Linked DNA regions of Homo sapiens. The protein of the gene in region 2 purifies or fractionates together with the protein of the main gene of each other region. This does not show direct contact. Each region holds a gene or a part of one and is shown on either strand. Other genes may lie near its edges.

Region 1 (3,750 bases), on a different chromosome or scaffold from region 2:
AAAGAAATGCCTACTTTTAATATGATGAAAGCTTCCAGGAGAGTTCCCAGCCCCTATTCCCCACTCAGCAGTGCAGTCACTTTAATGCCATCCACCCTCAGCCTGTGCTTGCATAGATGAGAGTGGAGTCCTGCTGGCTCTCTCTGGGAATCAAAGCCTCCTGTCCTAACTGGCCAGTGCTATCAGAGGACACAGGCTTCTGGGGTGAGTTCTGGGAAAACCAACTGCTGTTCCAGTGAGGCTCAAGGCACCCTGCCAAGCCAGGTCTGCCTGGTAGTGAGGGCAGAGGTCCCTCCAAGTCTCTTCTCTCTAGAACGGCAGCAGCCACCTGCTAAATGTAATTCAACTCAGCCCATTTCCACTGAGCTTGGATTCATATTCAAGAGCTTCCTGCTTTCCTAAACAAATCCTTAGCTTCTATACCAGACTAGCCATTTCTTAGAAATGGGATCATCTTGATTTGCACAGCAACCTCAATAAGACCTCAATAGTCCAGCCTCCTCTTCCCAAGTTTCAGGCTTTATTTACACGACTTGGGTGAGGTATATAGGATGGGCGTGGTGGCTCACGCCTGTAATCCCAGCACTTTGGGAGGCCGAGATGGGTGGATCACCTGAGGTCAGGAGTTCGAGACCAGCCTGGCCAACATGATGAAACCCTATCTCTACAAAAAATACAAAAATCAGCTGAGGGTGGTGGCATACGCCTACAGTCCCAGCTACTAGGGAGGCTGAGGCAGGACAATCGTTTGCACCTGGGAGGCAGAGGTTGCAGTGAGCTGAGATTGCGCCACTGCACTCCAGCCTGGGTGACAGAGTGAGACTCCGTCTCAAAAAAAAAAAAAAAAAAAAGTCATGGTCTATAGCCAGCGGTTCTTGCCAAGCATGGTGACTCATGCCTGTATTCCCAGCACTTTGGGAAGCTGAGGCAAGAGGAGGGTTTGAGCCCAGGAGTTCAAGACCAGCCCGAGCAACGCAGTGAGACTCTATCTCTACAAATTTTTTTTTTAAAAACAAAAAACAGTTCTTATGCTGTTTTAAGATATAAGGAACATCTGAAACTAGGAATGTTCCAGAAAATTTTGGCAGGGATGGGTGAATAAACAGTTTCAACCCTTTCTAAACTGCTTTAATTTTTCTTACAGGTCTACTTCCAGTGGAGGTGAGAATGGGGGTGGACGAAAAGAGAAATCCCTAATCACCAGAGGTACAGGCTCCTTCCCACTTCTTAGCAGCTTTTCTCACTCTGAGGCCTCCCATCTTAGAGTAAAGCCCAGGTAAAGAACTTAAAGGTGCATGGCCTTGGCTGGGTGCAGTGGCTCACACCTGTAATCCCAGCACTTTGGGAGGCTGAGGCAGGAGGATCATGTGAGCCTAGGAGTTTGAGACCAGCCTGGGCAACATAGGGAGACCCTGTATCTACAAAAATTTAAAAATTAGCTAGGTGTGGTGGCACACACCTGTTGTCACAGCTATGCAGAGGCTGAGTTAGGAGGATTGCTTGAGCCCAAGGAGTTCAGGGCTGCAGTGAGCCATGATCATACCATTGCACTCCAGCCTGGGTAACAGAGCAAAAAAAACGCATGGCCTTTACATTTTACAGGCCTCCCTAATAACTCATGGTGAGAACTTTTAGTCTCAGGCTTAAGAACTAGCCCAAGGAAGCTCACTATGTCCAGAGAAAGGCCAACCCATCTTTGGATAAAACAGTAAATTGAGAAAGCTCCCAGAACCTGGGATGGCTGTTCTCCAGGCAGGCCTCCCAAACCTAAACCTGGGACACACACGTTCTGTGCTGCTGCTTGTGTCAGGAAATCACTGGCATAAACCCTGGGTGCCTGCACAAGGCAGCGGCACAGCCTCGGGCACATGGGCGTAGAGGGAGGGGCTCACAACAAGCAAGAGAAAGACAGGGCAGCCTCAGGGTGACCTGAGTTAGCAACACCAACCAGGAACGCTGGCAGTTTGTTCTGGGGTTGGAAAAAGAGGACAGGAAGGGGGAAAAAAAAAACCATCAAAAGCAGCCCAAGAAAATGTTGGTACTGGGAAATCCTTGGCTCTTGTGATATGGAGTGAGTGAAGTGAGAATGAGTATCAAGAGCCACTCACATCAGACTCCTGAGGAGGGGCAGCTCCATGGTGGAGAAGCCTACTCTGGATGGTCCACTGAGCCCAGGGCCATTACATGGATGGAGGGATCACTGCAAGCCCATCTCCAGTGCCAGAAAAACAATTTAAAGTACAAACTGGAAATTTTACTTGGCATCTATCATGTAAGCCACTGGGATGTAAAGAATAAAAGTAGCTTCTATGCACAATGCTCAGTCTAGTGGGGAGGCAGACCCAAAAGACGGAGGTGTGCCCAGAGGTGCTTTCTGACCTTGCAGTGGCACGAAGAGGCTACATGCCACAGTGCTCCGGGGGATGGGAATAGGTCCAGGGTGGTGGCATGTCACCGTGCTCCAGAGATGGCAGCTTCCTCAGGCAGCAATGGCTTGGCTTTAGGCTGGTCTGCACTAAAGGAGGTTTCCCTCTAGTGCAGAAAGACCATTCCAAGCTAAGACTGCAAATATTCAAACTGCCGACGAGAGGAAGAATTCTCTTTCCCAGGCCCTCGTTTTGCCTAACTGGCTAAAGGGCCTGTGTGCCACAAGCCACCTTTGAACTTTTAGCTTGGTTGATTCTATGGTGTGGCAGTCATGAAGATGTATTTCTCCAAATGCAGGGGACAGAGTGGCTGCACTCTAAAATCCATCAGCACATTCATGCAGAGGCCACCCTTCCCACCTGCTGCTTCCAGCCAATGCCTGAGCATGGGAGGGACTCGTCTGAGGGGCAGCACTGGCTCCCCAATGGCTTTGCTGAAACTTTCTCAGCACCACACTCCAGTGGAAAACTTCCCCGCTCCCCCGGCCTTTCCTCCTCCACAGGGGTCTGCCAACTCTGCCAACAGCCTCCAGCTCCCAGCCCCATTTTCCCTTGCAGGTGTTTCCCCCAGTAAATCTCTTGTACTTTTAATCCTATCTTGGCATCTGTTTTTTGGATGACCCAAACTAACACATAGATAATTATTCTTTTTCCTTCAATTCCAGTATCTCTGCCTTTATAACATTTCACATTAGTTTCACCGACCATCACTTAAGGGGGAAAAAAAAAAAGAAAATGCGAAATTCTGCTTTCTAAATGAGATTACATATATATAATACCTGGCAGGTAGTAGACACATAATAAAAGGCACACAAATAAATAGTCTCTGCGTTAGAGAAGACCTAAGGTCACCTGACATAGATTAATTCAACCAACATGTACTAATTACATGTGTGTGGCACCTTGCTATGTGTGGTAGAGATGCAAAGATACATGACATGGTCTATACACCAAAACAAGCTTAGAATTTGACAAGGAAGAAAAGACATACACACAAAACCAAATTCATATGTAGCTGAGTTATAAAATGCTACGAGAGTCAGGAAGGGGAAGATTCCTTTGGCTGGGGCAGGAAGACAGGAAAGGGGTGGAGGAAAGAAGAGATTTGGTCTATCTTTGTCTAAGAGTTTACACTTGAACCAGGCACCAAAGGCCATAGGACTGCAACCATATGAGACAGAGGTGCTGTCCGTGCAAGCCCAAACAGCGTGAGCCAATGCACAGAGATAGGCAGGCGAGCTGTGTGTCCAATGGGGCTGAAGCGGGGCAGGCAGGTGCCTCCTGCCAGGCTGTCCTGAGCCAGGCCCGTCAGCCTACGGTTCCC
Region 2 (3,750 bases):
GTAACTTTTTTTTCTTCTGAGTAATAACGTGCATGTAGACATCTGAAAAATGTAGAATGGTGTTTAGAAGAAAATTGGAATCCCACTGTCCCTAGTGCCTGCTCCTATTAAATTTCAACCTTTTCATTTAATCCATGAATCCTATCAGCTTCATGTTCTTAGGGTTTTGCTTTTGGAGTTATCTTCTTTCTGTTCTATATAATTACTTTCTGTCCATCTGGATCATTCTTATTAATTAACATAGAAACCATAACAACAGTCAGGTTTATAACAAACGGCCAAAACACCCCCACCATGACCCACGCTTTCTCTAACTGCCACCCCATTTCTCTGCTCCTGGTGAGAGTTGAACTCAAAAAAGTTATTTGTTGTTTATACTTTCTCACCTCACATTGTCTTCTCAACCTATATAAGTAAGACTTTTGTCCCTAACATTATATTGAAATGGCTCTTATAAAGACCACCAATGTCCTACATCTCACCAGAGCTCTCAACAGTATTTACCTAGTCTTCACTAGTACTCAGCCCTTGAAAACCTTTTGCCCTAGGCTTCTGTGACACCTATACCTTCCTGGTTTTCCTCTTACTCACTCACCGTTCTTTCTCAGTCTTTTGCTAGCTTTTCCCTTTCAGACCTCTAAGTGTTGACATGCTTAAGGGATCAATCTTCTGGCTTTCCCTGTCTTCCCTCTCAGTGATGTAGTCTAATCCCATTGCTTTAATCTTTGTGCTTTAATCTTTGTGCATGTGACACCTAGATTTATGTCATCAGTTCAGACCACTCCCTTTCATTTCATATGCAGAACTATTTTCCCATGTGCTCCAAATTTGCTCTATCCCAGGCCTTTCCCCATTTAGGCTTAGGAGTTATCCTTGAATTCTTCTTGACTTTACTCTATTTTTAAATTGTTTGTTACCTCAGCTTAAAGGGATTCCTTAAAAAATTAAAATACACTATAAGAATTCATAATAGCAAGAGATTTTAGGTAATAAAATATAAATTTCAAATTTAGGCCATCATGGCCTAAGTTTCAAATTTAGTGCTGAGCCTGTAATCTCAGCCTTTGGGAGGCTAAGGCAGGAGGATCACTTCAGCCCAGGAATTTGAGACCAGCCTAGGAAGCATAGTGAGACCCCATCTCTACAAACAAAAAAATGAAAAAACTAGCTGGACATGGTGTTACACACCTGTAGTCCCAGCTACTTGGGGGTCTGAGTTGGGAGGATTGCTGAAGCCTGGGAGTTTGAGGCTGCAGTGAGCTGAGATCATGCCACTGCACACCAGCCTAGGTGACAGAGCAAGACCCTTCTCCAAAAAAATAAATAAATAAATAAATAAAAGAAACTTGGAAAATAACCTGGAAACATCTATTTTATATTATTGAGTAGATTATTTTTCCTTTTTCCTCATTTCTCATTGTTTTCTTTACGTTAGCCGGTTCTTCTTGATAGCAGTAGCATTCTTGCAGATCGTATTCTTCTCATGGACACATTCTTCCAGATTTTGATTTATCATGGTGAGGTAAGATTTCAATAGCATTTAAAGCTATGCATGTAAAGTCTTTTTACTTAGAAAGGTTTTCTTACTTCTAATTGTATGGCTAGTGTTTCATCTATGATAAACTTTGATTTCCATTTTTATAAAATAATAAAATATGATGCTGCCTACTATAAGGTTTTAGGCTTCAATTGCAGTTGACCCACATGTGATTATTTTATTCATTTGTCACACAATTGGATTTTGCGCAAAGCACAGTGTTGTGAAAGTAAGAACACTGACTGTACATAGACAAATGGCACTTTTGGGTTTTACCTGAAAACATTAAGGGGGGAAAAGTCAGCCTTTGTCAGTGGGCAGGCTTTCCTTTTACGTTATGCAATCATTATAAGTTATTATTAAGTGTTCTACATGATCTTGAAAACTCATTTAAAGCATACATGAATTAAAATTTGTAACTTCATTGGAATGGTAAATGATTACAGAGAGCAGAAGATTTTAGTAGCTATTAAGCTTTAATCCAGGTATTTAGCAGACCTTGATGCATTCCTGCAGTTACTCATTCAGCCAATTGTTAAGTGCTTCCTCTGGATGCTTTGGAAGATATAGATGTGTTCTTTTTTCACAGATCTGTTCTCAAACTTACAGTCTAGTGTTTTACTAAGTTCTGCAGATTTATTTTTTCAGTTGCTTTAATTGTAAATGATTTTAGATTTGCACTGTGACTGGGTGTGGTGGCTCACGCCTCTAATTCCAGCACTTTGGGAGGCCAAGGCAGGAGGATTACTTGAGCCCAGGAGTTCAGGACTAACCTGGGCATCATAGTGAGACCCTGTCTCTACAAAAAAATTTTTAGAAAAGATTTGTACTGTAATAGTAAAGACATTACTCAAAATATTCTTTGAAGTAGTACTACCCAGGACTTTTTTTTTTTTTTTTTTGAGACTCAGTCTTGCTCTTTCACCCAGGCTGGAGTGCAGTGGCGCTATCTTGGCTCACTGCAGCCTCTGCCTCCCGGGTTCCAGCGATTCTCCTGTCTCAGCCTTCTGGGTAGCTGGGATTACAGGCACATGCCACCACGCCCAGTTAATTTTTGCATTTTAGTAGAGACAGGTTTTCACCATGTTGGCCAGGCTGGTCTCGAACTCCTGACCTCGGGTGATCCGCCCGTGTTGGCTTCCCGAAGTGCTGGGATTATAGGCGTGAGCCATCGCGCCCGACCTACCCAGGAGTTTTAAAAGATTTAATTATTATTATTGTAAATTATTTTTAATTGATACCAGTTTCTAATGCCCTTTACTTGTTAAGAATAATACCTGTTTTAACTTCTTGCCTTTGTTAAAAAAAAAAAAAAAACCTGTAATACTGACAGGGCTTTTTTTTTTTTTTTTTTTTTTTTTGCTTTTTCTTTGTTTTATGGTGATTTTTACTTTTTCAAGTAGCTTGTTAAAGGAGAAATCAGAAATGCACATGATTGTTTTATACAGAGGTATAAAGCTATAAAAGAATGTGTTGACTGATTCAGCTAACTTAGAAAATAAACCAGGCATAAGTTTTTAGATGATTTAATTACATGGTGTTTAGAGCTACTTACCTATGGATTGATTCAATTGCTTTCACGTATCATAAGCTTAGGTAGATAGCTTTTAGCTAACATTCATTTGATAAGCATAGTGTTTTAAAAATTTTCTGACTTATGTAAGTATTCTTTCATTTTACTTTTAAAGGAGAAGAAATATTCTAATTTTATATTTATTAAGAATATTTTCTCTACTGAAATTGTAACTTTTAAAAAATTGAGGTAAATGGAATAATGGTCTATAATTTTTTTAGTTTCTAAAGATTATTTTCTTTGGAAAAATCTCAAGATTTTTGGATGGGCAAGAAATTTAAAGTAATTTCTTTAATTGTTTTAAAATTAGACCATAGCACAGTGGCGGAAGTCAGGATACCAGGATATGCCTGAGTATGAAAATTTCCGCCACCTTCTGCAAGCCCCAGTGGATGATGCACAGGAAATTCTTCACTCCAGATTTCCAATGCCAAGATACATTGACACTGAACATGGAGGCAGCCAGGTAAGTAGTGTTAATTTGTTTGTGTGTTTGTTTGTTGTTAGGTTTGCAGTGAGGTGTACCTGCTTGCCTTCTGATTTTAATAGATTGCTTCATAAAGCAGACAGAAAGGTAAGGAGATAGGTGGGGAAGGTATCAGTGCTTACTTTTTGCATTAGCTTTTGAGAGCAAAACAGT

What was found. Proteins that work in one complex are often made in the same cells at the same time.
Region 1: the proteins of SEC23A (region 2) and TTC1 fractionate together in Homo sapiens (co-fractionation; 2 studies listed by BioGRID). This does not show direct contact.

The regions. Positions count from the first base shown.
Region 1 is NC_000005.10:160,061,068-160,064,817, reverse strand, and holds part of TTC1 (tetratricopeptide repeat protein 1), read right to left. Parts: intron 1,277-3,750; exon of another isoform or gene 1,162-1,276; coding exon of another isoform or gene 1,145-1,161; intron 1-1,144.
Region 2 is NC_000014.9:39,040,558-39,044,307, reverse strand, and holds part of SEC23A (protein transport protein Sec23A), read left to right. Parts: intron 1-1,435; coding exon 1,436-1,522; intron 1,523-3,420; coding exon 3,421-3,576; intron 3,577-3,750.